Linked DNA regions of Homo sapiens: all the other regions are linked to region 4. Evidence: fine-mapped QTL for protein levels in blood plasma. Region 4 holds a variant in brackets. A gene starts in each other region. All regions are shown on their forward strands. Distances are between the middles of the regions. Region 1 holds the start of CCL28 (C-C motif chemokine ligand 28). Region 2 holds the start of VASH1 (vasohibin 1). Region 3 holds the start of CCN4 (cellular communication network factor 4). Region 4 holds the start of MEF2C-AS1 (MEF2C antisense RNA 1). Region 5 holds the start of COL5A1 (collagen type V alpha 1 chain). Region 6 holds the start of SMTN (smoothelin).

Evidence for each region. PIP is the chance, under the fine-mapping model, that this variant and not a neighbour inherited with it causes the effect. Protein levels are from antibody-based Olink assays in UK Biobank. Linkage for the fine-mapping came from a reference panel and not from the study's own genotypes, which makes the PIPs less certain.
Region 1: it holds the start of CCL28, and the variant in region 4 is fine-mapped to the plasma level of the CCL28 protein (UK Biobank, PIP above 0.99).
Region 2: it holds the start of VASH1, and the variant in region 4 is fine-mapped to the plasma level of the VASH1 protein (UK Biobank, PIP above 0.99).
Region 3: CCN4 starts here. The variant in region 4 is fine-mapped to the plasma level of the CCN4 protein (UK Biobank, PIP above 0.99).
Region 5: COL5A1 starts here. The variant in region 4 is fine-mapped to the plasma level of the COL5A1 protein (UK Biobank, PIP above 0.99).
Region 6: SMTN starts here. The variant in region 4 is fine-mapped to the plasma level of the SMTN protein (UK Biobank, PIP above 0.99).

Annotation. Positions count from the first base shown.
Region 1 is chr5:43,409,291-43,414,436 of GRCh38, forward strand. CCL28 (C-C motif chemokine ligand 28) reads right to left here and starts at 3,101. Exons shown (of 3, transcript NM_148672.3): 1 at 2,963-3,101. The coding sequence starts at 3,026.
Region 2 is chr14:76,758,975-76,764,120 of GRCh38, forward strand. It overlaps VASH1 (vasohibin 1), which reads left to right and starts at 2,494. Exons shown (of 7, transcript NM_014909.5): 1 at 2,494-4,156. The coding sequence starts at 3,848. RefSeq lists silencers at 2,461-2,650, 2,751-3,020.
Region 3 is chr8:133,188,050-133,193,195 of GRCh38, forward strand. It overlaps CCN4 (cellular communication network factor 4), which reads left to right and starts at 2,990. Exons shown (of 5, transcript NM_003882.4): 1 at 2,990-3,164. The coding sequence starts at 3,096. RefSeq lists a silencer at 3,862-4,109.
Region 4 is chr5:88,883,224-88,888,318 of GRCh38, forward strand. It overlaps MEF2C-AS1 (MEF2C antisense RNA 1), which reads left to right and starts at 107. Exons shown (of 10, transcript NR_136219.1): 1 at 107-262. It also overlaps a transcript of MEF2C not described here. RefSeq lists an enhancer at 1,019-1,068. The variant T/C (reference allele first, on the strand shown) is at 1,156.
Region 5 is chr9:134,639,101-134,644,246 of GRCh38, forward strand. COL5A1 (collagen type V alpha 1 chain) reads left to right here and starts at 2,703. Exons shown (of 66, transcript NM_000093.5): 1 at 2,703-3,196. The coding sequence starts at 3,088. RefSeq lists an enhancer at 3,682-4,388.
Region 6 is chr22:31,078,245-31,083,390 of GRCh38, forward strand. SMTN (smoothelin) reads left to right here and starts at 3,074. Exons shown (of 21, transcript NM_134269.3): 1 at 3,074-3,212; 2 at 4,935-5,065. The coding sequence starts at 5,015. RefSeq lists a silencer at 2,956-3,115.

The DNA of each region.
Region 1 (5,146 bases), 45 Mb before region 4:
TGGTGCACGCTTCTAATCCCAGCTACTCAGGAGGCTGAGGCAGGAGAATTGCTTGAACCCAGGAGGCGGAGGTTGCAGTGAGCCGAGATTGCACCATTGCACTCCAGCCTGGGCGACAAGAGCAACAAACTCCATCTCCAAAAACAAACAAACAAAAAATTAGCTAGGTGTGGTGGCATGCACCTGTAGTCCCACCTATGTCAGACCTCTTAGGGACCACAATTGGAGTCCCAATTGTGCAGAACAACATTGAGTCACAAATGTATATTCGTGGTAACCTTCCCTAGCCAGAGTCTTATGATTAAAACAAAAGGTAAACGTTTTAGGATGCAAGCAGCAAATCTCTAGCAAGTATTGGTGTGATTCAGTAGCCATTGTACTCTGAGAAAGAAGGTTGTCAGTGGGAAGGCAATTTGGGACTCACTGCAGCAAAACCTCCTAACTTGAATCTGCTGGGCACAAGTGAGCCTTAATCTTAATGTACAATAAAACAGCCAGGCCCACAAAGTCCTAGATTGTGGGTTTAAATAATCAGGCTCAGGGCCACCGAAACAGGATGATAGACATGTTTATGGATTCAGTATTGAGTTCTGGGAGCCAGCAGCCACGTCAGCAGAGGTGGAGTGTGCCCTACCTTTGGGCAGAATCCAAGGCTTTTAATTATAGATAAAGTCACCTGCTTCCTGATTTATGCAAAACACTTAGGGAATGCCAGTTATTGAGCCATCACAACAAGATAGCCATTTAAGACACCATTAAGATAAGGGAACAGCTTTCTGCCTCAAGGAAACAAAATATATTTCCCAAAGTTCCAAACTGGCACAGGCCTTTTTCCTATTCCCCTTGCCAAGGCCACCTGTCCTCTTCTCTGCACTGTTGAGTTGTTGAGTGTTCTCTACCTTCCTCCCTCCCCACTTGGTTTTCCACCCCCTCCCTGGAGCCAGAATCACTTAAGTGCCTCCCACAGGGCACCTGGCTTACATGGACACTTGAGTGGAAGTTTGTTAAGAATAGCTGTGGCGTTGCCCCTCTATTCCACGACTGTTCTCAGGCCTACTTGTGTATTTTTACCCAGTATCACTTATTTTTAAATGACAGAAGTTTGGAGCTTCTCAGGCAATGTGATTTTCCTGTGGCCTAAACTGCCTTAGGTAAAGCATCGAGACTAACCCAAAAGGCTATTGCTGGGTCTCTCGGCTCCCTTCCTTATTATCACCAGCAGCCGTACCTTTTCACACACCTCTGCATTTTGCCGTTCCACCCCACCGTCTCTACCAGGACTCAGTCCCATGTGAAGGTGGGTCCTGGGTATGGCAGAGCCTTCCTCATTACCCTCTGCCTCCTCGACCTGCTGTTCCCTCCCTCCTTTCCTGTAGGAGAGCTGCCGCTGTGGGGACAGGTGGGAGTAGGTCAGGAAGCTGGATGGAGGTACACATTTCAAAGTTTTATGTAAAAAATTTGAGTTGGTGGAATTACCAGAACTAGGAGTGAAGCCTTAGCAGGTAGGCCTTTCAGAAATAGTGAAAATGAGTCCCCAAATCTCAATGGTGAATTTTTCTGAGAAATGTTACAGAAACATAAAGTGACAAATTTTTGTCTTTATATTGATAAGATAGATAGATTAGTAGAAATTGAGAAGAGATTGTCCAGGTTTTTTCTGTTGCTTATTTGTATAAGCCCAGTACATTGACGGACTATATTGGGAGTCCCTAAGCAAATGCCTGCAGGGACCAGGCAGTTAATACAGCAAACTTCAGAGGCTCATCTGCTTTAGCCAGTTCTTGCCATGGTATGGTGGAATCATTGTTGCCACATCTGATTTCTCAAGAGAAGCTTTAAAATCCAATTTGTATGTGTGTATGTATGAGTATGTACATGAGAAAGCTTTCAGTTTTAAAATGTTGGCTCAGATTTTTAAAAAGCAGACCAAAGACTTATATTCCACCTCTGCTCTAGACTTAGAGAATCTGTTCAGGATAAAGCTTAAAGAAAAGATGACAATGGAAAAGAGTCATTGGTCAAGTATTAAGTACTGACACTTAGGGTTTCCTGAATATAGTAGTGAGTGCTACTTTAGAAGAGATTCCCTCTAGTTCAAATGCAGTTACAATCTCCAAATACATGCTAGCAACTCACGATTTAAATTCTCTTTGACATAATTTGTATGGTTCAATCTCCCTCATCCTGCTTTTCTTCTTTTTCTTTCTTTCCTTTCCTTTCTTCCTTTCCTTCTCTTTCCCCTCCCCTCCCCTCTTTTTGTTTTTAACAGATGGGGTTTTACTATGTTGCCCAAGCTGGAGTGCAGTGGCAATTCAGAGTGCAGTGGCAATTCACAGTGTGATCATAGCTCACTGCAATCTTGAATTCCTGGCCTGAAGCTATCCTCCAGCCGTAGCCTCCCAAGTAGGTGGGAATACAGGCATGCACCACTGTGCTCAGCTCTGCCCTCCCTTTTTAAAGGTCAGACTGAAGTTTCAGTTTTCTGTATCCATAGAGCTGACTTTGCTCAGGAAATTTACAACTTACCTAATTTGAACGCAGCTGGCCAAGTCTGTATTTCCCTCCAGGAATGTGCACAGTTGTGTTCAGACCGTTTAGCAGGTTGGGGTGTGGAGGAAGACAGATGAATAGTAGGGGCTTTACTCCAGCCTCTAGCTGGGGATTTTCTAAGATACTGTCTTCAGAAAAGGAAACATAGCTCGAAGTTGTACCTACATGGAAGGACCTCATCCTCCAGGTGGCAAAAATTTGTAGTATGCCTGTTAGAATGAGGTTCCTTCCTGAAACTTCTGGGAGATCTAGAATTTAAAGCTATGTCATTCTCTTGTAGGTAATCAGAAATCAATTGGAAATTCCTGCTTGAAGAGATAGATATTCTTGCCCCACCTCAATCCTTCCAGCACAGATTTGGGAGATACCCCCCTTTCCAGTGAAGGCCTAAGTGTCCAGTGCCCCCACTCACCTTCTGAGGCATGTAGGGCCGCACAGACAGCCAAGGCCACGATGGCGAGTCCTCTCTGCTGCATTCCTGCCTGCCCTACTGGCACTGACAGCAACACAAGTGAGGCTGTTCGATCAGGAAATGAGGCTAAAGGTGTCCTTGGGCACAGAGAAAGTGCAGAGGAAAAGTAAGCCAGGTGGCCCCGCCCTGGGAGGTGTTCAGGGTATCTATTTCTCATGTTTCTTTCCTTAAGACCAGGCTCCTCCTCGACTTATTAAGCTCCTAACTTGTGTTCATCCTGCCTGGGGGTCAGGGGATGTCAATGGAGATCTGGCAGCTGGCAGGGTCACTGTGAGGTGGGGTGTGCATCAGAATCATTTGGGGAACATTAAAAAAAATCAATCTAAATGACTCTCCCCTTTCCCTGATTTGTAAACCAGAACTCCCAGGTAGGAGACCAGTCATTTGAATTTTGTAAAAGCTCTATAGGTGATTCTGATGGACACTTATGTTGAGACCCATTGCATAATCAGTTTTTAAGTAGCTTATGGAAACCATGAGTTTCTGGGGACAAGGGTGACAAGTCATAAAAAATGTATCTTTGTGGAAAGATATGGAAGTATTAAACCCCACTTTAGTCTTGGTTCACAGCCAAATTGTTTCCAGTGAAGCTTTTTACAATAGCTTATTTAGGAGAAAGACAGGAAGGGGGGCAATGCCTTGTAGAAAAGAGCCCAAGAGCAGGTGTGAAGAGGCATGAGCGCTAGTGCAGCTTTGCTGCCAATCAGCTTTGTGAATAAAAGCATGGGGTAGCATGAAGATAATTGGATTCTAATTGTTCCTCATCTACTAATAAGTTGTATAACCTCAGGCAACGTACTTAACTTTGCTGTAAATAACAAGTCAGACTAGATGACCTCCAAAGTCATGCCATGCTTCCTCTAGAACTGTGTTGTCCTATGTGGTAGCCGCTAGCCCACATGTGGCTCTTGAGCACTTGAAATATGAGTAGTCCAAACTCAGATGTACTATGGGTATAAAATTCACACTGGATTTCAAAGACTGGGTACAGAAAAAAATATAAAATATCTTGTTAATAATGTTTATACTGTTTATTGATTACATGATAGTATTTTGGACTTTTTGGGTTAAATAAAATATATTATTAAAATTAATTTCACCCATTTCTTTTTATGTTTTCAAATTACTGCTGTGGTTTGAATATTTTTTTCTTCTCCAAAGCTCATGTTGAAAATTAATCCCTAATAGTGCTGGGAGATAGGGCCTAATGGACAATGTTTAGGTTATGATGGCTCCACCCTCATGAATGGATGAATGCTACTATAAAAAGGGCTTGTGGGAATGGGTTGGTACCTTCTGCTCTTCTGCCAGGTGAGTACACAATGCTCCTTCTCTCCAAAAGATGCAGCAAAGTGGCATCATCTTGGAAATAGAAACTGAAATCACTGGAGCCTTGATCTTGGACTTCCCAGCCTCCATAATTGTAAGAGAATACATTTCTGTTATTTATAAATTGCTCAGTCTCGGGTTGTGGTGTTATGATATATATATTGGCTTTTATCCATGGTTCCTGGCTTATAACTCCCATAACCCTTGTTACAGTTTTTTTTTGTTGTTTGTTTGTTTGTTTTTTTTTTGAGACAGAGTCTCGCTTTGTTGCCCAGGCTGGAGTGAGTTTCACCATCTTGGCAAGATGCTGGTCTTGAACTCCTGACCTTGTGATCCACCCGCCTTGGCCTCCCAAAGTGCTGGGATTACAGACATGAGCCACTGTGCCCAGCCCAGTCTTTTTTTTATATTATAATGTTGGGGCACTTTAGGCTTCAGGAACAGGCCTCAGGAAACGGAATCTCTCTCTGACCTTCTGTTTTTCTTTCACCTGCCCAAGGCAGGACTCTAATCTGATTGTGGGTCATAAGATCCTCATTCCAGAAAGGGTTCTGTCCCATACTCTAGAGGAAGGAATGCTACACAGGCCAAGAAAAGCCTGAACAGGCAGGACTTGCTGGGTTTAGATTATGTGCTTTTTGTCTAATCACATTTCTACATGGTTGTTAATCATGCCTATGTAATGAAGCCTTTGTAAAACCCCAAAAGGGCAGAGTTTGGAGAGCTTCTGGATAGCTGAACATGTGGAGGTTCTTAGAGGGTGGCGTGCCCAGGGAAGGCATGGAAGCTCTGCAT
Region 2 (5,146 bases), not on the chromosome of region 4:
CAAGTGTCTGTTGGAGGAGTTGTTCCCAAGGCATAGGTGTGGGGAGTCATGGGAGGGCTTGATGAAGGACCCAGGATCTGAGACCAATTCAAAAGTTGTGCCATACCAGGTTAAGTCACTTGTTCTCTCTGGGCTTTTGGCTTAGATAAGACTGGGTTATACACATCTCTTTCCAGTTTCACCATTTTCTAATCTATTTGCAAGCCCCCTTGCCTGACACATACCCTCTTCCACTTCTATGCACACATGCCAGAAAATTCTCTAGCCTAGTCCATGCTGACCTTGTACCCAACTCATTTCTTCTTTTCCCAGCTCCTCACCTGATTGGGAAGTTGCTCTGGGTATGCACTCCCACAGCTTCCTGAATAACCCTCTGGCAGAGCACCTTATGGAAATCATGCTTAACTATCTCCTCCACTAGTAGGCCATAAGTCCAACTAGAGCAAAGGCCATGTCCCTCTTGTTCACTACTGCTTCTCCAGTGCCCAGTACAGAGTCAAACACATAGAAGATGTTCTATGAGTACTTACTCTTTGAATGAATACCCTACATCTATTTTATTTGTCATTTCAGAAAACACATGGTATTATCTCATGCTGCGTAACAAGTTAGTCCAAAACTTAGCAGCTTAAAACGAGAATAGTCACTTATCCTCTCTCAATTTCTGTGGGACAGAAAGTCAGACAGGGCACAGCAGGGCTGGTTGTTCTCTGCTCCATGTCTGGGACCTCAACTCTAAGACTTAAAGGCCGAGGGCTGGCAAGACCTGAAGTCTCGGTTTGCCATGATCTGGTGATTGACTCTGGCTGTTGGCTGAGAGCCCAGCAGCAGCTGTCAGCGAGAACACCCTCATGTGGCCTCACCATGTGGCTTGGGCTTCTTCACAACATGGTAGCTGGTTTCTTCTGAGGAACCAAGAAGAAGCTGTCTCCTTTTTATGGCCTGGTCTTAAGAGTCATACAGCTTCACTTTCATCACACTTTATTCATTAGACACCAGTCACCAAGTACATCCCACATTCAGGGGGAAAGGAATTAGATCCCATCTTTTGAAAAGAATGGTCAAGAGCTTGCAAGCCAATTTTAAAACCAGCACCACTTGGCTAACACAAGAAGCAATGTATAGAGTGAAAAACAAGTGTCTGAAGAAGTAAGACTTCTGTTCACATTCTAGCTCTGCCACTTACTAGCTGTGTGAGTTTGGGGAAATTACCCTCTGAGACTTGGTTTATACAATACAGGGTGATAGTTGTTGATCCCTAGTGATTTTTCTACGCTTGGAGTCTTCTTGCCTTAGTGAGTTTAAGAAGATCCAGGCTGAACTAACTTTCTTGGAGTCTTGCAATCCTTCCCATCACTGATAACCCTTGGTTTCTGACCCTGGAGGTAGTAAGAGGTTGCTACGGGAGCACAGGGTACCCAGAAAGTTCAGATACTAGGGACAGCTTTAGAGAACAGATGTGAAACCACTGAGGCCCTGGGGTCTCTCTAAGGCCTTTAACCCAGCCCTTGTGTAGTAACCTCAGCTTGTCAAGAAATGCAACGACCCCACAACTAAGGAATCTGAATCTGCCGGCTAAGGCCAAGGAATCTGCATTCTCCCACAAGACTGTGATTCATGCTAACTACAGGCAGGGGAGAGGGGGAGCATCTTAAAGCACACACTCGGCCGTCTCTTCCTAAAGTTCTTGGCTTCAGCCTAGAGATAGTGCCTTTCCCACCATTTACAACTCTATGGCATGAGGGAGGCGGAGGGTGCGTCCAGTGTCCAACCACGCACCACAGCTGGTTGTACTTTCACCTTCCTCTAGGCCAGCGGACCCTCCCCAAGCATTGCCTCCCACGCCCACGTCGCGGTCCCACCCTGGTCCGCGGGGTCCAGAGCGTCCAAAGCCCGGTCTAGGCAGATGGTCTAGGGGTGAGCTCTGCGCACCCCATTCCCACCAGTGCAGGCAATCGAATAAAACAGGGTGACTTTTAACCCTTTTCGTTTCCAGAGATAGTGACCCCCCGTCTCAATCCCTAGATGTCCTCCTCTAAGAACTGTGCGCGCTGGGAGGGACTCTGCGCTCACTCACTGTGACCACCTCGGCTGGGATATGGGGAAACTGAGGCCTACAGAGGGAAGGGAACTGCTGAACGTCCCAAAGCAACACAGGCACTGAATCCGGTCTAGAATCCCAGTCTTCCAGGCCAGTGCTCTCGGTCCTACCGGCTCAGGGCCCCTGCGAAGAATCTTTTTCAAGAAATTCCCGACCGCAGGAATTCCTTCTGCGCTAGGAATCTCCATGGAGTTTGCGCTCCCTCTGGCACGTTGAAAACGTCCTCCGCAGCTTCGCACCGGCTTCGCGGCGCCCTGACAGCTGGGTGAGGAGGGAGCGAATGCCCACCGGCGTCCTTGGGGTAACTTGGGACAGAGGCACCGCCGCGGGGGGCGGAGGACTGGGCGCGAAGGCGCTGGCCCTTTAAGGGGGGGACGGAGCGCATGCGCGGCGCGGGCCGTAGTCGAGCCTGGTGGGCGGCTGGCTGGCAGGGGACGTGGTCGGCGGCAGCGGGGCCCAGGGGCGGCGGGGCTGCAGCAGCGGCGGCCCCAGCTTCGCCGAGCAGCGATCGGCTGGTGGGCTTCTCGTTGGCGGGCTCCGCGTTGGCGGGCTGCTCCCCAGGCACCAGCGCAGCGCGCGCTCGCCCGGCTTCGTCACTCGCCTCCAGCTACATCCGCCGGCCGAGGCTGCGCGAGCCTCCGGGCTTGCGGTCCCCGCCCCGCGGTCCTTCCTCCACCCTCAGCCAGGGCAGCTGCAGCCCGAGCGAACAGCCACGGAGCATCCTCCGCCCGCCCGGGCCGCGCCACCGCCCATGCTGCAGCCAGTCCCAGGCAGCGACCCCGCGGCCGCAGCCCGCCGCTCAGTGACCTCAGCCTGGCCCCTGCGCGCCGCCCGAGCCGGTCCCGCTGAGCCGCGGGCCCCGTGCCCTGCGATGGCTCGGCTGGTGCAGCGCGGCGCCAGGTGCCAGCCGTCCTCCCGCTGAGACGCGCCCGAGTGGGGACCCGCTGGGCCTCGGGGCTCGCAGCCTTCGCCTCCCCGCCGCGCCCGCTCCCTTTCTGGGGACTCCGCCGCTGTTTCTGGGGACGAGGGGACAGGGGACCCAGACAAAGCCCACTTTGTGCAGGGAGTTGGCCGCAGGCGGGGAATGTGCGCGTCGGCGCGCGCCCCCTCCCCGCTCCCGGCCAGCTGCGAGTCTTGGCTCCCGGACTTGTCTCGTCGCGTCGGAGAAATCGCCCCCCAGCGCCGCTCTCCCGCCCGGGGGTCTTGGTTCCGAGCTCGCGCGGCCGGGAGTCGCCTCGGTCTTCCTTGGGGCGCGCGCAGATGTGAGCGTGCGAGAGTTGTGTAGGGGATTTTGTTCCCTCCGAAACTGAGACCCAGGGCGCCCAGTGGGCACCCGTGCCTTGACTCTGTCCTTTCTGCAGCCGCTGGTCCGAGCTGTCTGGCCTCAGTTTCCCTCCGACTTTTCTCCGCTCTGCCAGCCCTCACTGCTGCCCGTCATTGTTCTCGCAGTTAGATGGGGGTGCTTTGTGACGGCTGCCAAGTTGGGGTGTGTTCTCTTTATTCCGTTTTTCAAACAGAACAAGGCCTCCAAGGCTGACCCCAGACAACCCACCCCCTCGGACCCTAATTCACCTTATTGCACTGATTTTTTTTATCAAGTCGTATTTTATTGTACAGGAGCCACGCCCTGATTTCTTAAAGGCGCCTTGCACTCTGGCCATGTGTTATCTCTGCAGCCGGTGTGTGGGAGGCCTCTTGTGAGCCAGTTGTTTTCCCGCCTCCACCACCCCCCTCGAAGATTTAGGGATGCCAGGGGGGAAGAAGGTGGCTGGGGGTGGCAGCAGCGGTGCCACTCCAACGTCCGCTGCGGCCACCGCCCCCTCTGGGGTCAGGCGTTTGGAGACCAGCGAAGGAACCTCAGCCCAGAGAGATGAGGAGCCAGAAGAGGAAGGGGAAGAGGACCTGCGAGACGGAGGCGTCCCCTTCTTTGTCAACCGGGGTGGGCTACCTGTGGATGAGGCCACCTGGGAAAGGATGTGGAAACACGTGGCCAAGATCCACCCCGATGGAGAGAAGGTGGCGCAACGGATCCGTGGGGCCACAGACCTGCCCAAGGTGAGACACACGGGTCAGGGGGGTGATAGCACAGTCTAGGTTTTAGTGACCTTGGGGCCAAGAGTGAAGCCACACTCTCCTCCCACGGGGCAGGGGACCACTGGCTCGGTAAGATCTTTAAAATGCAGTGATATCATACCTGTCTAGGAGAACTTTCTCTCACTGCCATTCTAGGAGGGAGGCTCACATACATTGTCTCCAGGAGGCCCTCCCCGCTGTCTTTTAAAATGTCCACGTTTTACAGGAGGGGACAGCAGCAGATGGAACTAACAAACACAGTAGGATGGCTTGACGTCTCATTTGCTTGATGACACTTGCCAAGCCAGAGAACTGTGAGCAGACAAATGTAATGAATGACTAAGGAGATGCAGGGCTTCATATGTTGAGAAAATATTTTCGTGCATTATGTCATTGAATTCTCCCAACAGCCTTGTGACGTAAGTACAGTTTGGATTCCCATTTTACAGATGAGAAAGCTGAAAACTCAAGTAGGAACTCAAGATCCCACAGCCAGTAAGTGGCAGAACTGAGATTCAATTTCAGGTCTTCAGGAGAAGGGCGGGGGGTGGTGGTGGAGGGAAGTGTCCAGGTCCTCTTCTCTGTTGGACAGTAGATTCAAGCACATTAGAAGAGGTCTTATGGAGAAGCATAAAATGAAATAATTTTTCTGTGTTGGCTGTAACTCCTCCTCCATGACAGCTATACTTCAGTTGTGTCACCAACGAAAACAGAGGCTGTATCTCATTCATCTTTGTCTTCCCAAGGCCTCCTGTGTGCCTGGCACAGAACAGGCACTAGTGTGTGTGTTTGCTGAATGAAAGGGTATTTGAGAGTTTCTGTGCTGTACGCTGCTATATGGAAATACATGCCAGATATTAAAAAAAAAAAAAACATGATCAAGACTAGGAGGCACTTTGCCAAATGCAGAGGCCTGAAATCTCCAAAAAAGAGCCCTTTGGACTGAGTTCAGAGCCCAGTGCTTAGCCCTGC
Region 3 (5,146 bases), not on the chromosome of region 4:
TCCTGGCCAGGTCACTGGGCCGTTTGTTTTCAGTTTCACTGACATTGAAGAATGGCAGGTGCCCATGAGGCTCACCGGGTCATGTGAGGTTTCACCCACAGGTGGAATGGTCAGCACTTTGATCATGTTTTGGGGTGCCTGCTTCAATTGCTCGAGACAATTGGATTTCCTAAAAATGATGGTGGAGTTCAATGGCTTCCAGCTCTGCAGGCTCTTGTTACACTTAACATTGAGAGGCTTTGGCAGGTCAAGCTGGCTTGGAAATGTCTGGTCCTGACTCTGTGCCTTGTCTGAGGTTAAGAGACTTTAGTTTCAGCCTCAGATCTACTACTCATACGTGTGCTCTGAAACCATCTAGCATCTCTGAGATGTGTTCCACCTATTTCATAACACTGTCTGCCTTGTAGTCATGAGATGCTCTACAGCACAGAGCCCGTTCATACTTAGTGTTCATCAAAAGCCAAGTGAGCCTAGATTGGCCCCTAACACCTTGGGTTATTTATTAATGACACCTGTCAACAATGCTGGCCTCCTAGGATTTATTTTTTGCTTTGTTTGTTTGCTTGTTTTGTTTTGTTTTTTGAGACAGTCTTGCTCTGTCACCCAGGTTGCAGTGCAGTGGCGCGATCTCGGCTCACTGCAACCTCTGCCTCCAGGGTTCACGCCATTCTCCTGCCTCAGCCTCCCGAGTACCTGGGACTACAGGTGCCCGCCACCATGCCTGGCTAATTTTTTATATTTTTAGTAGAGACGGGGTTTCACTGTGTTAGCCAGGGTGGTCTCGATCTCCTGACCTTGTGATCTGCCCGCCTCGGCCTCCCAGAGTGCTGGGATTACAGGTGTGAGCCACCGTGCCCAGCCTGGGATTTGTTTTTAAGCATCAATAAATTAATGAGAAGAAAATGACTGACATTTATTGGGCAGTCCTTACATGCCCCCCACATACCCTGCCCTTTAATTTTACATATATGATTTTAGTAATCCTCATGTATCAATTAGTATACAACTTGACTCCAACAAAAGAAAATTCAGACTAACTACAGTTTAAACAATAAAATATTAAATTATTTCATGTAATGAGAAGTCTGAATGGTGGCTCCAACAACAACATGAAGTCCCAACGACTCAGACCTTTTTTTTGCTTCCACTCTGCCATCCTCAATTTGTTGACTTTTTATTCTCAGCCTCATATACCCAAAATGGCTGCTGCAGCTCCAACCATCACATTTGCACACAAGGAAAGAAAAGAATGAGTAGATGGTCATTCTCTTCCTGAGGAAGGGAATCTTTTCTAGAAGACCCTAGCAGGTTTCCCTTATGTCTCATTGGCCGGAATTGGATCAGAGGCACATCCCCAGGTCAGTAAATGGAGAAATCATGAGCACCATCTCTTCTGGGGTCATGTCTATAGGGATCATAAACCTCTTCCATGAACACAAGCCTGCTGCTACCTCCAAGCAGCCACACATGCTTCAGCATCCCTTGTTAATAAGCTACAGGAAAAGAGAAGAGAAGGAGTAACTGTCATTTAAACCTCAGTGTCGAGTATTCCTACTGAGACCTGGAGATGCTGAGAACTTGCCAAGGTGTGAGAGGAGTTGCAAGGAGGCCATTGTGGTTGGGCATGGTGCACGAAAGGGAGAGAGGAAGAAGTGTACAGGGAGCTGGCTGGCCCAGGGGCCACGCCAGGACTGGGGACTCTGTGCTGTGTGATGGGCAGGCTTTGGACAGTTGTATCCAGAAGATGATCTATACATGACGCTAGTTCAAGGATTGCTCTGAGATGTGTGGATGGTAGAAGGTGGGCAGGGAGGCTGGGTATCAGTCAGGAGGCTGTGGCAGCGGTCCCCATGGGGAGCACAGGGCTGGACTAGGACAGCCCATAGAAGACATCCCATCTCCTTTCTTGCCCAAGGAAGAGACTCAGTGGCAGCAGTGCAATAAGGGTACAGGCCAGGAAACCCAACCCCCCAGGGATAGCAAGCATCCAGAGACACGTGGGGACAGCTCCAGCACCAAACGGCTTCTGACCAATGAGCAGAGACGGCAAACAGCAAATGCGTTACCGTGGCTTTCACGTGTCATGAAGGTGATGCTGTAACCTGAGCCTCAGAGCTCATTTTATTTGTGAATTCCTATCATCTCTAGATGGGTGGACTGAAAGCCACCTCTTTCGCTTGCAGCTAGGTAGAGGGGAGTGCAAGAGGGCAAATGAAAACCAGAAGTAGGGTTGGGCGCAATGCCTCACGCCTGTAATCCCAGCACTTTGGGAGGCTGATGTGGGCGGATTACCTGAGGTCAGGAGTTTGAGACCAGCCTGGCCAACATGGTGAAACCTCGTCTCTACTAAAAATACAAAAATCAGCTGGGTGTGGTGGCACATGCCTGTAATCTCAGCTATTCAGGAGGCTGAGGCAGGAGAATTGCTTGAGCCTGGGAGACAGAGGTTGCAGTGAGCAGAGATCGCGCCACTGCACTCCAGCCTGGCCGACAGAGCGAGACTCTGTCTCAAAAAAAAAAAAAAAAAAAAAAAAAAAGAAAAGAAAAGAAAAAGAAAAAGAAAAGGAAAAAGAAAACCAGAAGTAGGAGCAGCCTGAAGAAATGACAGGGAGTTGATTTCCCACTGGGAGCCCTCTCAAAGCCCACACACCCGCCTGCCTGGGGTAACAGTATCTCCTCGGACATCCTGCACCCTCCCATGCTCCCCCCTCCCTACAGTAGTGAAAGACCTAGGCAGGATGACCCCAGCTCCTCTGTGAGAATTTCACACCCTAGTGTGAAGTCATAGCCTTGTAACTTTCCCTTTAAGAACTGTCAGAGCTGGGGAGGCTGGCCAAGCTCAGGCTGGAGGTGGGGACAGAGGGAAGAAAGAAAAAAAAAAAAGAGAGAGAGGCAGGAAAAGTTTTTTCAGAGGAAAATGCAGGGTTTGTCCTTCACCCTGACGTCAGATCTTGCTTTAATAAAACCCCCCAAGGGCTGCGGAAGAGGCATATCTGGTGCTCCTGATGGGCCGGCCAGTCTGGGCCCAGCTCCCCCGAGAGGTGGTCGGATCCTCTGGGCTGCTCGGTCGATGCCTGTGCCACTGACGTCCAGGCATGAGGTGGTTCCTGCCCTGGACGCTGGCAGCAGTGACAGCAGCAGCCGCCAGCACCGTCCTGGCCACGGTGAGTCCTGCCTGGAGGGGCTCAGAGGGAGACCCAGCTCCCTTCTCTACTGGGTCCTGCTACATGGGGGCTGGTGGGCAGGATGAAAAGGGCCAGGAAGGTTTGGGGCTGGAAGGTGGCCACTTACAGGGCAAGGACAGAGCCCAGGGTGAGGAGTCAGCTGCCCAGGTTGGCTGAAGCTGGCAGGGTGAGGAGGACGGTGCGACACTTGGGGAAACAAACTGCACAGGTCCAGCCTGCCCTCTCTCCCCACCTGAAACAGTGCAGAAAGAACGGGGCCCTCAGCAGAACTGGGAGTCAGGGGCCCGGGCTCCAGACCCGTCTTCGCCTAACCTGGCTGTGTGGCCTCGGGTGGGTCACTCACCCTCCAGGAGCAGCGTAAAGCGACGAAGTTGTTAGGTGACTTCTAGAGTCTCTGAGTTTGAAAACTCCAAGACTCCAAGCATTGGAGATGCTGCGAAGATGGGAGATGGAAAAAGCCAAAAAAAATTGGAAAGAAAAATGCCAGCTTTCAACAAAAGCTCCTTATTGAGCAAACAGTGCTCAGGGTGATGTCTAACCCCAACTGCTGTCACCTCCGGTCTGCACAGCCCTCTGCAGTCTGCAGAGTGTCCATACTTGGGTCCTGCCTATGAAGCCTGCTGTTCCAGGGTGGGGGTGATGTGGGCACCCCAGAGTCTCTCTCTCTTCCACCTGCACCCCAGGGTACACCAAGGGGAAGGGACAAAGGTCTGCACCTCCAAAAGCCAGGGGAGTCACATATGTGACCGTGTAGAGCCAGCCTGCTAGGGCCAGGCATGGTGAGGAAAAGGCAGAGGCAGGCAGTGCAAGGAGGGCAGGAGGTGGGTACCTGGCAGCTTCTGAGCCCCAGATTCCACAGCCCAGGGCAGGACCTGCTCCTGGCAGAACAGCCTAGAGACGGAGGGGTGATGGCAAAAGAGTGTTTATCCCCAAATGACACTGATGGCTTCCTTGGGGGTTAAGAAGCCCCCTTCACAGATAAGGAAACCGTGTGTTGGGGTTAAACCACTTGCCAGAATCAGACTCTAGGTCTGCTTCAGCCAGAACTGAGGCCGAGAGCCGACAGCAAACTGAGACCTGGGAAATAGGAATTCCTCTCAATGCCTCGGTGTGTGTAATGATGGCGGGGAGTGGGTCTGTTTCATCTTGGTTAAATCCTCACGCCTGGCATGGTGCCTGACTATAGTTGGTTCAGAACCACCTTACCAGAAAGTTATCAGCTCCATTTCACAAATGAAAGAAATGGAAAGTGAGAGCAAGTAAAGGACTTGCCCAGGAGCTCCTCATTAATAAGTGGCCAGGGCCCAAACTTAGATCTTCTGATGCCAATTTCTAACCATTCCTACTTAGGGGAAGCTGACTGTGTCCTACAGGAGTGCCCAGAAGGAGCTAAGTCGCTGTTTATTTCGGCTCTGGGTATGGCTGCGCCTTTATTTGGGTATAGCTTTGCAGGTTGCTATGTCTGGGAGGGCAGGGAGAGGATGGAGAAAAGGTGAGCGTTTGAGAGAAGCCAAAGTCTGAGTGGGCAGAGGAGGCGAGAGGTTTAAGCATGAGTCCAAGTACTCTGGAGCCCCAGTCAGCTCCCAGAACAGCCGGTGCTGAGGAGGAGTGAAGGACAGAGCCGAGGACTCAGCCAGAGGAGACCAGCAAAGGAGCAGAGCGTGTGGAGGGACCCAGGGAGCAGGTTGGAGGGAAGGCTCCCGGGACCAGCACAAGGTACCTCTCTTCTAGGCAGCCCCTGCCTGGGGAACCCAGACCACCCACCCCATGCTTGTTTCATGATTTAGATGCTTCTGGGACAGAGGTGTGCACGGCACTGGAGTTCTCAGGATGTCCTGAAAGCCCCGCCCCCTGTGTGGGCTGTGAGACTGATAGAAACGAGCTGGACTCCATTTGGAAACCAGCCTTGTTTCATAGCCAAATTCCATACATGGTCATCCTCCCGAATTAATATGCAAAGG
Region 4 (5,095 bases):
TGTGCGCGCGCGCGAGGGGAGCGCGCGCGAGGGGGGGGGCGCGGGGCCGCGCATTCGCGCGCGCCGAGGCCGCTCGGAAGAGGAGGAGGAGGAGGAAGAAGGAGGAGGAAGAGAAGGAGGAGGAGGAGGAGGAGGAGAAAGTGGCTCTCAGCGGCCGGTCGGATTAAAAGTAACCAGACTCGTCCAGAAAACTGCGTCCAGGAAGGAAGTGACAGAAGACGAATGGGAAAAGGAGAACAGCTCACAGCGTTTGAAACATCGCGTAAAAAAGACTGGGGGTGGTGGGGGCGGGGGGGATTGAAGGATACTGGGAGGGGAGGCGGGGGTGGTAGGGAAGACGGAGCACGAATGGTTGGGGTTCTAAGCAGCACGTCCGATGAAATGTCTTTTGCCTCCTTTTTTCCCCCTTTATTTAATTTTGTCCTTGCCTTTGCTTCGCGCTGCCTTTTTCTCTCCGTCTCTCTCTCCCCCACAATCCCAAACCGTTGACTCTTTCCTCGCGAGCTGGAGAAATCATCAGTTTCACTCTTGCAAAAGGGGGGCGGGACTAGACCTCGGAGCATTTTAATAAAACAAACATACAGCAGCTCCCTCCTCACCCCTCCAGTCTCAACTAGATTGATAAATTACTCCACTACACTACTTTAATTATGTATATGGTATGCAGAATAAATCACTGAACATCAGTACCTCAATCAAGCACTTTTAAATGATAATTGCATCTTGGTGAATCAATCTTTCCATTCCTGACATTTTGCTAATTTTAGTTTTACGGTGGGGTAATAGCACATGCCATACGCAAACCTAATGACAATTCTTTATTGCACGAAATGAAGACAACACGGCGAGCTGCGGCTCCCTGCTCCTCTCGCGGCGCCTCTGCGGAGGACGCTCGGAGAGAACCTAGTCTCCCGCTGCGGCGCGCTCGCTTGCTCTCCGGGGACGCTGCGAGCCAGCCAGCAGGAAAGTCCTTCTAAAGTCGGGATCTTTCCTCTGACCAATAGGAGCGCGACCCTAATAGTTGCTCTTGTGACTTTTCCCCCTTTTGGACACGCGTTAGCCACTTCTCTCTTCCACCGGTCGGTGCGCTCCTCCGTTACTCACGCGTAAAAACCACGGTCCAGGATGTCTGCAGCACTCGATTCCAGCGTGCTT[T/C]TCCTGCACGCCCAGAAGTCGCGGTTTTCACCCTGAGAGGTTGGAGCGCTAGAAAGCGAGCCGAAAGGTTTCTCTAATGTTAGTAATGTACGAAATAATAAAATAATTACCAGTATTTGAGATCTCGACTTCATCGCGGGGCCATGAACTTTCTAATCAGTTTGGAAATATTTACCGAGGAAGCAGCTTCCTCGGAGTTCCCCCCCTCCCCCCACTCTATCTTTTCCACACCTTACTGGACTTCATCCAGGTCATTAACATGTAAACCAAACCAACTTCCCAAATGCATTAGGCTACCCTAGCCGATAGCTGATGACTTCACTTATCCTGAAGAGTTTCAGCTGCACAGGAAGCAGAAATAGAGACTGATAAGGGAGGATACTTATGTTAAGGTTAAAGCATGATAAACACTTTTCCTTACAAAAAAAAAAAAAAAAGGCTTTAATATTTAGGCTACTAGAGATTGGGCACCTCCCGCCCTAACCAACTGTTAATATATACCATGCCCAATAAAGCCAAAGATAAAATACATCAACTAGTATAGAATCATGAAAAGACAAGATTGCATGCCAGTAGAATTATAGATTACATAAAATGTTTAAACCAAACTATTTTTTAAAAAATATTGTGAAAGCAAGAAGGGAAAATTAATAGAACATGGAATATATGAGATTAGACAATAGTATATTGAAATATCTAGCTAACTAAAGATTTCCTCACTTTAGAAAATTCCTTTTAGCACTACGTTTAACCCAATGACTAGTTGTATTTCCTGTTAAGTTCAGCAATATGCCTCCAGATGACTATTTTAATATATGAGGACAGTATGGTTCAAAAAGCCTCCTGCTTCAATGTAGGAGGTATTTGATGTGAGTAGCTTCTCTCAGAAGAGTGGCCTCAACATTTAGGCAACTGTCCCAAGGCTTCACTTGAAAGGGGAAGGTTTATTTTATAGGCAAGTACAACTAGATCTGAACAATCTTCAAGTTCCAGCTCATCATTGTGACTATCAGCAAAACTAAGACCATTCCCTCCCTTTTATTATAGGAATGCATCACAAACTGTCACAAAGCAAAAACCATCTGAAATAGTAGTATTTCTTGCAGATTAGTATTTACAATGTATTTTGTTTGCCGGTTTTTCAAATGTTGAGTTTGCCATTACCATGAATTCATTTTAATAATATGGCAGAGAACATCTGTATCAGGTTTCCATTCAAAGTACAACTTCTCTGAAAATCCAAAAATTTAAAGGGCAAAGATATTTCGAATACTAAGATATGTCTATATATGGTGGTAAAAATAAAATTAATTTTCTTCAAGATTCACGAAGGTCCTGAAAAAGCAAAGCATTTGAAGGACCATCTAAGTTTATTGCCATAATACCTAAAATTAATGCAGTGAGTTACAACAGTCTATTTGACATGAGCAAACACATAGCCAATACATGAATTTCAGCCCTGCTGTTTTTAATGAATTATAGAGGGTATTTCTGTTTACCACAGTACACTTCAGTTTTAGATGTTCTTTCAAAAAGAAATTATTTTATTTTACCTTTTCATATTTTAAATAATTATTTAATAATACCCATTATAACAAACCCATAATTATTAATGATACTGCAAGCATTCAAAAATAAGTATAACCCCACACTGGATAATTTGAAAATAATTTGGATCTGGAATGTATCACAGTTGGCCTTTTAAAATACAGGATTTTCCCCTCAGCAGATTTAGCTTCTTAATTATGTGTGACCTAAGTTAATATTACCATTAGTTTTCTTCCCATGAGCCTTTACAGTTGAAGCAGAAGAGATATGAAGAAATATACATTAGAAAATCACCTGAGATTTAAAATTATTCATGAGTAATCCACAAAGTAGTTAATCCAGAGTGTGCTTTGTATTCTTTAAATACTTCTGGACTTTTGGTTTCTGTTTCTGTTTTTGTTTTTTCTTTAAAATCATCCTGATCCTTGCCATCTAATGATACTTGGTTAGGATCAGACTATTTTCTCATGTAGGGAGGAGCTTGTACTAGGTGTCAGGAGACCTGGATTCTCTATCTAGTTCAAAATTTGTGCCTTACTAAGGGATTTGTCCTTTCTAGGCTTCAGTTCGCTTATGTGTTAAATGAGTTCTGTAACCTATTCCAGTTCTATCATTGGAAAACAGAAAATGTTTCTACCCTTTAAACCAATTGGAAGGTAGGGTCTATCCAGTTAAATAATAGGTGACAATTCCTTTAAAAGAAAATTATGTCTGGGATTGATGTACTACTGTACCAGCTTTTATTTTTTTCTAATCACCAAATATTTCTCCTACATTAAGTTGTAAATGCTTTATTGTTAATGTAAATATAGAGTCACTTGTTTTTCCCTCAAAAGAATTATGTTTAGCAATATATTTAATTAAAGTGTCATAGAAGTTACAGAGAGCATGCTCCTCGGGATTTTAACTCCAGGGAAAGCTAATATTGCAATTTCTGTTCAGAGCTGCATACCATCTTACTCCAACCTCCTCTCTTCACTACTTCCCTACATTAAAGCAGCGGTCCACTAAAGCCCTGTGCACTGGGTCTGCCTGCTTTTAAGCCTGGCCCACGCTGGGTGTAGCTCTTGAAGTGAGCTTTAAAAATTATTTTAAAGTGAACTGGGGCGGTTGCCACAGCAACCCACCCTGAGATGAAGAAAGGCTATAGATTAATGTACCCCTTAAGATTATTCAACTGTATAGTATTTGTTCCTCAGCCAGAATACTTTTAACACAAACATGATAAGTGAACATGGTGGTTTAGAAAAATCTAAAAAGCAGTGAAACACAAATTCCAATAGCATTACATATTTTAATCTTTGTCTAATTATAGTATTGATGATACACAGGACTTCCCATGAAATAGATTAATTTTATAAGATACAGTACTTGCAAAAGTAGGCCCTGAAAGATGACATGATCTTTAAGCAAAATGATATGTCATTGCTTATAATATAAAGTGTATGGTGGTCATTTAACTCTTTATTATTGTTATACACGTCTATTCTGTAAATACCTAAGGCCAAGGAGTTTGGCAGTTTTACCTTTATGGTAACTCTGTGGTAAATGATAAAAACAAATGTGAGCACTCACCACATACACTTCTTTACTGCCACAATCATTTGCCTTCCGTTCTTTACTTCATCTCTTCATAGAAGTTACTTCACAGTTTGCAACTCTTCTTTGGCACCTTCAAATGTGGAAGTGCAAAACAGTATATAGTATTTTGTTAATGCTGATATGAAAATACTTTCAAATAGATTTATTTCTAAAACTTCTAATCTGAAGTAACAATATTCTGATTTTAAACCAAAGTGTTTTGAATATAAGACAACTGAAATTGTCATGCATTGTGATAATAATCTTTAACATAAATAGTGCCAAATATCTAAATTTCAAAAATTCACTAGGTGCAGCATTAACCCAAGAAGAATATACAGCATGTGGAATGTCTGTGATTGAGAATTTGCAATATACAAAGGATTTGTTATTTCAAGACAAGGTTTACACATATCTAAGGATTCTATGTTTATCTGTATTTCTGTACCTTCAGTTTTATATCTGATAGAGAATTACAGAAGAATGTCAAATCCATTATATCCGAAGCTAACACAATTTGTCAAATCGGGAAATGTTTGCAATGCAGTTGAGGTTACTGAAAGGGCTTATTTTATGCATTGCCTAAAGGCCAATTTAAAATACTTTGGGATTAGTGATGTGTATTCAGTACGGTTTATAAATTCTATTACCAATAATACCTTATTTTTCCAAGCAGTGTTTAACTATACTGAGCACAGACAAATGCTCCTGTGTTCTGATTTCTGTTTTAGTCTGGCTTTCCATGACTTTGTGCACACAAATGAACCTTTCCTTGGCTTCAGACTGAGGCTAGTCCCAGAAAGAGAACCAG
Region 5 (5,146 bases), not on the chromosome of region 4:
GGGCCACCTCTGCATGGGCGTGGGAGTCACTGCTGCATTGCAGGTCAATGTGGAAGGGACCCAGGCACCTTGCTCACCACATACTCCCTAAAGCCTAGAGCGGTGTTGGCAAGGAGTATGCGCGCAATAAGCAGTTTTCCAAGGACTCTGGTTTTGCTCAGTTGTGGGAGGGCATGGAACATGGTGAGTTTGGGACAATCTGCACCAGTTGCTGTTGTCTGAATCTGGGCAGGGTGGTCCTGGCGGCAGGCGTGTGGTCCGGATGCCATGGGGAGGCAGGCAGTGCACACTGGGCTCCAAGCATGGAGACCTGGGTCCAAATCCGGACCCTGTCACGGATGAACTGGGTAAGTCCCCTACCCTCTGTGGCCCCTGATTTCCTCATCTGTGGATGGGAGAGATGCCAGTATTCCCTACCGGTGCATGAGAACTGATGCACGTGTGGGTGAAGAGTGTGAGGCAAAAGCCTTAAGATGTGGCTGATATTCTTAGCTTGGCAACACAGTTCGAATCCTGATTGGTACTGCCGGGCCATTCTGCCATAGTCCCTGGCTGACACATCAGGCCGCCAAGTTTGGGGACTTCTCTCTGAGTTTCCTGGTGGGATAGAAACTCATCTCTCCACCCAACTCAAGGCTCAGATGAGGGTGGAAACTCACATTTGACAGCTTTCCAAGCCACCGCACCACTTGCTCTCCAAGAGAGGATAAAGTGCATCTGTCATGGCTGCTTGAGCTGCAAGACTGAGCCATCTTACCATTGCTGAGAAGTCAACTTTTGGGGGACCTTGGGGTGGTCACTTGAGTGTCAGCTCTTAAGGCGCCAGTTGTGTTAATTCAGGGCAAAGTTTAGATGCTGGCTGTGAGTTACAGGAGGGCTTGCTGACTGGCACGGATGTGCACATGGGACTGTCAGAAAGGAACTCCACTTGTGCTTGGGGAAAAAGAAGCTGGAACCAGAAAGCCTCCACTCTCTTCTGATAACCAGGCCATGGCCTGTGTCAGCACCCCTAGTCTTCAGGGGTGAAGCTGGCCTTGCTGGTAGGGGCGGGGGCACTCCAAGGACCAAGCACAGCTGGGGCTGGCGCGGAGTCTGGGGTTTGATGGAATTTCTCACTCATTGAAGTCCACAGGGAAAGTAAAGGGCCAGTGGCTGCAGGTTAACCAACGCACAGACACGCACACAGGCACACACACAAACACACACATGCACACAACTCACACACATTTTTGCCTGATCACATATGCCTTATACAAGTTGTAAAACAAAATAAAATCAACAAGGAAACAGGTCAGAACTAACATTTGCTTTACTGAATGTATCTCAAGCACCTCCCCACGTCTGTGTGTGAAGAGCTTCTCATTCTTTTCCTGCGAAATATTTGATATCTATGCAAGCGCATGTGGCAGATATGGAGACTAAAAGCCTCATCACCAAGTTAGCAACAGCGACCTATCACCCAGCTCCGGAGCCTGCCATGGCTATCCTGGCAAACCTAACCTCGGACGCCTCTCTCACCTCCTGTTTCCAGAATGGTGAGAATTAAAGAGCATTTGGGGAATTTCACGCCCAGTCTGGAGATGTAACTGGAGAGGGGAGTCCCAGCCCTGTCTGGCATCTCTGGCTAAATTGTTTGTTCAAAGGGAATGGGGATGGCCCAGGGTTTGCAAATCGTTCTTAATTCATTCTGATTCCCTCCTTTTAAAAAACTAGCCCTGCAGCCCTTGGGGAAGGGGTGTGGGTCAGGCTTCAGGAGGCTGTGCAGGGAGGCCAGGCCTGGGGAAGCTGGAGGGAGAGACGCCCACCTACCACCCAGAGACTGGCGGGCCTCCTGCTGGAGGAGACCCCGAGGGGCTTAAAGAAGCCAGGCAGGAGAATCAGGGCCCCAGCTCTTCTCCGAGAGCAGCCGATCAGGAATGCCTTCTCCCTGCGCCAGCTGTCACTCCCAAGGGGATGCCTTCTTTGGTTTCCTTTTTATTGCAGAGGGGCCACCAGGGAGTGGGCAGGAGTGAGGGGTGAGAGCCTGGGGGCCGCAGAGCCAAACTTCGCCTGATTAATAACCCAGATGTTCCCGTCCAAGCACATGGAGGTCCCGGGAGCTCTTGGGAAGTCAGACCCCAGCTCGGTCCCGTGCCAATCTGCAGTTAGGAGGCAGGTCCTCGGTCCGGGTTGACACGTAGGCCACAGTCTTGGGCGCCCTGATCTGGCTGGATGGGAAGTTTAGTCTCCACCCAGAAGAGGAGCTCTGAACTCCTCCACGTTAAAGAAAAAGTTAGGCGGGGTAAACTGCAACTTTCTTTTTAACCCGAAGTGATCAAACCTCGGGGCCCCTCTGCACTGGTTCTTGGAGCATGGCCAGGTGCGGGCACCTGGGGTGGGAACAGTGGGGGGACCAGGGTGGGCCCCTGGGCTCCGAGGCCGCCCCAGGCCCGCCCGCCTACCGGCTCTCAGAGAAAGAACAGGGGGCCGCGCCCGCCCCACGTCCGCTCCGCCCCGGGCCAGCCCCTTCCTCGCTGCGACTCGCCCGCTGTCCCCACCCCCTCGCCCGCGGCGCCCAGTGGGAGGCGGGGGCTGGCCTCGCCGAGCCCAGCGCCGGGCTCTGATTTGCTGCGGGCGTTGGGGATCGACAGCCTCCGCGGCTGCCTTCCAGGAGAGAGGGAGGGAGGAAAAGGGGGAAAAAAGTGCTCCGCGCCGAAGGCGAGGTCCGCACTCTCCGTCCCCGCGGCTGGCGCAGGACCTCACTCGAGCGGAGCGCCCACGGGGAGCGGGTCGCGGGGCGGCGGCGGCGAGGAGGAGGCGAGAAGGAGTTGGAGGAGGAGGAGGAGGAGGCGAGGGCGAGCTAGCCCAGCGGGGTCCCGGCCGCCCCGCGGGCCAAAGTCGAGCCCTCCCGCCCGTGGGCGAGCGCGCCAGCCGCCCCTTCCAGAACAGCCGCCGCCACAAAGAAGAACGGGGGGTGCCGAGGTCCCCATGACCTCCTAAAGTGGTGCGGTCCCTGCTGAGTGCGCTGCCCGGGCCGTGACCCGCGCCCCTGTGCGTCCCCGCGCGCCTCCGAGCGCCCCTGTGCGCCCCGGCCCGCGCCCCGCCGGCATGGACGTCCATACCCGCTGGAAAGCGCGCAGCGCGCTCCGCCCGGGCGCCCCGCTGCTGCCCCCGCTGCTGCTGCTGCTGCTGTGGGCGCCGCCTCCGAGCCGCGCAGGTAAGGGCGCCCCGGGGCGCGGGGCTGCGGGATGGGGCGCGCGCAGCCCGGGCGCCGCTGTCATCCCCGGGCGCCTTCGCCCGCAGAACTTTTCTTCCTTGGCCTGTGGAATGCACGGGCCAAGACCACGAATGCCATTTGCTGGGGGCCCCCCCGAGATGACGACACGCAGACACAATGCCCGCGGGCGCGCCGCCGCCCCCTCCCCAGACGGGCGGGTCGGGTGGGGCTGTCGCGCGAGCCGAGGAAGGACCGAGGGCTGGATCAGCAGGAGGGGTTGTCCACGAGGCGGGCAAACTTTTGTCCCAAAAACCTTCCTTCTCTGTCCCACATCACAGGCGCCCAGCTTGGGCCCTCACAGCCCTACAGCAGAACTTCCTCTGCTCCAAACCGGGCAGGGCCGCCCCCTAGAGTTACAGCCCTTCAAATCCCGGGACTCCTGGGGATGGGGGGAATCCCAGAAGCCTGGGCCCCCAGCACTGAACTTCCCCCAGGCACTGTCACTCTAGGCTGAGCTGGCGCCCTGCTTTCCCCAGGGACAGCGTTTCCTGCAGCCTTGGTCACCTAAGTGTTCGGGGGCACTGGGGACCCCTGCAGGGTGGTAGACAGCCCTGCTCCTAATCCCACCCCCAAACTTCTTGATCCCTGGAAGGCAGCTTTTCCTGGATTCGCTGCTGAGAGATGGGATGCGTGGAGCAAAGCCAGAGATGGGCTTGCAGGCGGGGCTGTGAGTGGTTGGGATGATATGCAGATGTGGGATTCCTTCTGCCAAGGGTCAGCCCTTAGAAGGAGGCTTGCTTCCCGGGGAGGGCGCTTCAAGGCGGGGACTGTCTGCGTCCCTGCCTGGGTTCTCGAGGGTTCAACTCTCCCTGGCGCAGCTTCCTGACGGGGGAGTTTTTCTAGGCATCGCTCTTGGTAGTTAGTGGCGGGGTGGGTTTTCACAGACTCTCGAACATCAGAGCCCCCAGCCCTGGAAGGTCCCCCGAATCCTTATTGACAGGCGGGGAGATGGAGGCTCAGAGCTGTGTGCTGCCAGGTCAGGAGAAGTGGCGGGCAGAGCGATGGGACGGTGGGCTCAGCGAACGTCTGGACCAGCCCGCCGCCTGCCAGCAAGAATGCTTCTCTCTGCTTCACGATTGGAAGACAAGTGGGAAGAATCATTGTCCGTGTTCCGCTTGTCAATTAAAACACTCTTTTCCTTTTTCCCTGGCACGATCAGTGCTTGTTGGGCTAACTGGATGAGCTGGAGTCTGGGTGTGGGGGCTGCCCTGGGGCTCTGGGGGAGGAGCCAGGAGCCTGGCCTGGCTCCCAGGACCTGGGATCTCATCCCTGGGCCGCCACCAACTCTCTCCTGACCCTGGGCTAACTGGGCTTGTGTTTCTCCAGGGGTTAGCTGAAGGTGGGGGACAACAGAGGTCCCCAGAAAAGTGGAGAGGAGAAGGAAGGTGTGGTCAGGGACTGTGCCATTGCCGGGGGACTAGGCCCTGTCTCAGCGCCTCTGGGGACTTTTCCCCAGAAACTCAGGAGGGAGTCCTTCAGGGGAATCGTCACCCTAGACAGCTGGGGCAGGGCACTGCCTGGGGACCATGCACCGGACTGGGCTTGGGGTTCCATTTCCCTCCCTGCCCATCTCCCCACCTCCACACTGTCTTTTTCCCTCTCTGGTTGCCCTCGCTAATCGAAGTGCGGCTCGTTGGAAGTGGGAGTGAGGATGGCCCAGAGCAGCAGGCTATGGAGTTGGACATTTTGCTTTTGTCAGAACAGACTTTTAGAAGCATGTGGAGAGACCACTTTTCTTAGTGAGTTTTGCCAACGTCTCTCCACCTCCCAGGGTGGGACCTATTTGGAAGTCATCCTTCGAGCATGGCCAGAGGGGGCGGCTGTCCACTGGAGATGCAGGCGCTGGGGGGAGGGGGCGGCTGTCCACTGGAGATGCAGGCGTGGCGGGGA
Region 6 (5,146 bases), not on the chromosome of region 4:
GCTTTCTCTGAAGGACCCTGACTGGGTGGAGGGTTAGCCAGGGTGACTTAGGGATGCAACACAGACAGCTTGGTAAAATAGTCATTCTCAGACTTGAGCTCTGGAGCAAAATATTACCCCTAGCCTCTGAGCTGCTCCAGCCACTTCCCATTCTGCCTTTCCAGGGTTGAACCTGGAAGAACCTAGAGTAGACCCTTTCTGTGACAGCCCCTTGCCCTAGGAAGGCTTGAAGCAGACCAGTCTAATCACCTCATTTTACAGGGGGCAGGCTGAGGCCCAGGCCTCTCTGGTGCCCACAAGATACATTCATCCTGCTCATCTGGCATTCAGAATCCTTGGCAAAGAGAACCACCCACATTTCCTGCTCCGCCCACAGCCTATCCTCCTCCTTTTCCCAGACTATTGGTCTTTGCTCACACTGTTCCTCTGCCACAAATGCCCTTTCATGCCTTTCCCCCTCTTCTATGTGGGATGAATTTTAAAAATTAGCTGGGCGTGGTGGTGTGTGCCTGTAGTCCTAGCCTCTTGGGAGGCTGAGATGGAAGGATTGCTTGAGCCAGGAGTTTGAGGCCATGGTAAGCTGTGATCATGCGACTGCACTCCAGCCTGTGGGACACAGCAAGACCCTGTCTCCAAAAAAAATAAAATAAAATAAAAACAAGTGTGACACACAGTTTATACACCACTTCCCTAAGAAGTCTTCCAGAGCTTCCCCCATCCTAGTGGCAGCAAAGTGGAGGGAAGGGGCTTCAGCATCAGGCAGAATTCCACTTTAGTCTGAATGCCTTTACTAGGCCAAGGTGCCTTCACCTCCCTGAGCTTCAGCTTCCTCTGTCGAATCAGAGTGTACCTATCTTGCACAGTGGTCACCTGGCAGTAGTGGGAGCCCCACGTCTGACATGCAACAGGTGTTCAGCAAATGCTGGGGCCCTCGTCACGGGATGTTTACTCTTTCCTCGGCTGTAGCTGTAAACTTCCCTAGCACTGTACCGGACTGCCCTTTGATCTCTAGATCACCCCCACTCCCTTGCAGAGAGGAAGACAGAGGCAGGCGGGTATGTCTGGAGGTGGACCCAGGCACTAAGGGCTTGAAGGGGCAGGACCCACACATCCCTTCCATAGGGCCAAGGGCTAGTGAGCGCATGTGCCAGACAGTAAATCCAAGCATGGAGGAACTCACCTGTACCATTCCTCCTAGCCTACAGTAGGGCAGGGAGAAAGGAGGGCATTAGCACAAAGCAGGCCATTCATTGGAGCTGGTGACCGCCATTCAGGCAGGCCCTGAAAATCAGAGGTGGCCTAGGTGTGCCCTGCATGAAGGGGAGGTCCCAAGGGACGCGTGAATTTTGAAGTATTCAGAATTGGTCTTAGAGGGCGCCTGACCCTCGTTCTGGATAATAACATGGCATCTCGCCCAGGTAGAGAAAGCCTAGGACCTTGAAATATGTCCTCCGAAGTGAGCTCTGTTTGCCTCTCCTGCTGTGTAGCATTGACAAGTCGCTTTCTTCTGTGCCTTGATTTTCTTTTTTCTTTTTTTGAGACAGAATCTTGCTCTGTCGCTTAGGCTGGAGTGCAGTGGCACAATCTCGGCTCACTGCAACCTCTGCCTCCAGGTTCAAGTGATTCTACTGCCTCAGCCTCCCAAGTAGCTGGGATTACAGGTGCATGCCACTTGCCCGACTAATTTTTGTATTTTTAGTAGAGACGGGGTTTTTGCCGTGTTGGCCAGGCTGGTCTCGAACTCCTGACCTTGGGTGATCCACCTGCCTTGGCATCCCAAAGTGCTGGGATTACAGGCATGAGCCACCGCACCTGGCCCGTGCCTTGGTTTTCTGATGTGTAAAATGGGACCACTTCTCAGGGGTGTGGGGATGAAATGAAATGACACATGGAAAAGACTCTCAGTGTGGAGACTGGGCCTTTCCTTAGATGGGGGCTGGGGGGTGTCACAGAGGACCTGAACCGGGGCTCTTCTGGGTTAACAGGCTGAAACCACCTCCCCAGAATCCCACATTATAGTGGTTAAAAGCAGGGTCTGGACTCAGAAGGTGCTGGGTATGAATCACAGCTTTACTACTTATCAGCTGTTGTCCTCATCTGTAAAATGGGGCAATAGTCATGGTCTCATGTGCTTGTTATGGGCATTATATGCCTGGTACATGGCAAGTACAAAATAAATGATTTGTTATTGTTTTTATTTGACAGGACTCCAGACCCCATCCTCCCAACTCCACCCACTTTAGTCTCCATGGAGACCCAAGGGCGGCTTTAGGGCCTCTGGCACTGAAGATGGAATAGCTTTGCCTTGTGGATCTGACCTCCTGGGTACCCTGGCTGATTCCTTGTTTGGTCTTGGACATGTCAGCTCTCTCTGGGCCTCAATTTCCCCCTTTTGCTGAATGACAGCCTGGACTCCATATTCCCTATTTAGGACTCCAGCGCTCCTAAAGGCAGACTCTCAGGGCTTGGAAGGTAGAAGCATGCTACAAGAAGGCAATGTCTGTTCAAAGGTGTGTGGGCTGGGGGAGGCGTGCTGTGTGATTGATTCTGCTCCACCTGAGATGGTCCCGGCACTCCAACACAGGGTCAAGGTGCTGCCAGTCACTCAGTCCCTGCTCTGAGGTGGCTCAGACCAGGTGTCCCGAAAGCAGCCTAGGGACGGCGGCCAAGCTTAAACACTGACGCGAGAAAGGGGTGGAGTCGAGGGAGGGGACGTGGTCTCAGGAACAAAGAGGAGGGCGGAGAGGGGCTGTCCTGAAGGCTCTGAGACTCCTACGACCCCAGGAAACTTACCTCGGCTCGGGGCGCCCCCCCCGACTTGGCGCAGAGCCTGCGTCCCCCTGCCGATGCCCACCCGACTCGCTAAAGCCACCGAGGCAGACGACCCCAAGACTCCCAATTTCCGACCTCCCTGGCCCGCGAGGGGCGGGGCCTTCCTCTCGGGGCGTGGCCGTCAAATTGAATTTTCCCAATGGGGCACGAGAGTGGGAGGTACCCAATCGAGGGTTGGCTGGCGCGTCGGGGCAGGGCGGGGCCAGCCGGGCTGCTGGCGCGGCTGGACGGGCAGCTCTCCGCAGAATCCAGGGGACGGTTGCTGAGCGGGCCTGGGACAGCGGGTCGCGGCACCTCCGGCCTGCGCGTGTCTAATCCGTCTGTCGGGTCCCGAAAGAGCTAAGCCGAGCCTGCGCCGGACGGGTGGGCTGGACTGAGAGGTGGGTGTGCGGACCTCGGGGGGGATCCTGGTGCTGCCCCAACGTGTCCGGGGGTGGAACCCGGATGTCTAGACAGGAGTTCTGGAACGTCCAGACCTGGGAGCCCCCACCCATACGAGAGGTCTAAGCCATGGGATAAAGTTATGAGACTGTTGGGGGAAGACGCCCCCGGATTCCTAAGAGACTCCACGCCCCACAGGGGCGCTAGTCTGTGGCGGCAGAAACCCTGGGGAAGCTGCCACAGAATCCTGAGGCCCCTCACAATGTCCGGCGACCCCAGACTGTGTGACAGGGAGATTGGAGAAGAGCAGCGGCAGGGATCTTCTTATAATCCCATGGGTGTCCTAGATTAGGCATTAGGGTCAGCTGCCCCATAGAAGAACAGACATGGGGGGAATCAGAATGTCCGCAGAACCTAAGGCTGGTGACCACTGGACAGTCTTGAAGAGGTTTAACCCAGACAGAGTAACTAGGTAAGAGGCAAGGATCCTAACAGGCAGAGATTGGGAGGTTGACACCTCTGAGCCTACCAGGATGGGAGGGGGAACAAGCAGTGACTTGAACAGGCTGGGACCCACACACCCCAACTGTGTGGAGCGGTAACCCTCACCCCCCACCCATGCACCGTATGGGGTGACTTCCCAAGTGACTGTTCTGAAGAGAGGGAAGGGATGATTGAAAGATGAATCAACAGGAGGTGGGGGGCAGGCCTGGGGCCACACATTAGTCAGTCACCATACATTAACTAAGCATCCACAGTGTGCCAGACCAGGGCCCCTCAAATTCCAGACAGACATTAGTTGGGGCTACAGGAGGAAGGAGAGATCTGCGCTGGGAGGCTGGGCCAGGATTTAGGGGTCCATTTTGATGGGCAGCACTGGGGCAAGATGGGGCTCTTGCCTCTGTCACTGAGAGTGTTCCAGGCCCTTGAGGGCACTTTGGAAGGGAGCTTCGGAAGCCGGAGATGACGAAGATTTTGATTACATCCTTCTCTGCCCTCTAAGTCTTTGGCTTCCTCCTTGCTCAGTGACAAATCCTTGGCCCTCTCCAATCTTCTCAGTTTGCCTGAAATCCAGGGGTTGGGCAGGTCAGCTTCTGAAAGCCCTTCCAGGTGGGGAATTGAATTCTGTATGAATTGGCAGGAGGTGCTGGGTGCCTGGACACCTGGCTTCAGGAGGTCTGGACAGCAGAGCTGGCTCCAAGAATCGGAAGACACAGTGTACCTTCCTATACCTGGGGGAATGACAGTGGTGGTGGCAGCAAGAACTACGGGTTCAGCCCACAGCCAGAAGCTGAGCCTGCGGAGTGGGTGGGGGCTGGGTAGGCCCTGTGGATGGGTGGGTGGGGCAGGAAACTGGAGACTGGAGTGCACCCCCTGGTGGTAAGCACAGCTTGGGTGGGTCTTGCCAGGCCCTGGCTTCTCAATCCAGGTCCCTGCCCTCCCTGTTTTGAGGTTTAGACAGGATGAGAGTCCATCCCAGGCCACACAGCAGACTGGCGGCCAAGCTGGCAGGGCTGGAACCAGAGACCCCCTACCCTGGGTTTGGTGAGTTTTCCAGCAAACCACCCTAGGGCAGAGGGCAGCTTCCAGCCAGGAGCCACATTATAGGATGGGACAGTAATGGACGCTCCTAGGTTAGAGAGGGAAAGTAAGGCACAGAGCCTAAGTGCCTGTGGTTTCTGGAAGCCCCAGCATGCCTGATTCATGTCTGTCCCCTGCAGAATTCTCTGAGCTGGTGACAGGTGCCACAGGCACTGGGGATCTCACCAGAAAGGAACCGACGGAGCTAGGGGCCAGCGAGATGGCGGACGAGGCCTTAGCTGGGCTGGATGAGGGAGCCCTTCGGAAGCTGGTAAGTGGCCCCATCACCCACTGTGGGGACAGGAAAGCCAAGCCAGAGAGGCAGGGTCAATCCAGGGTACCTCTCAGCTGA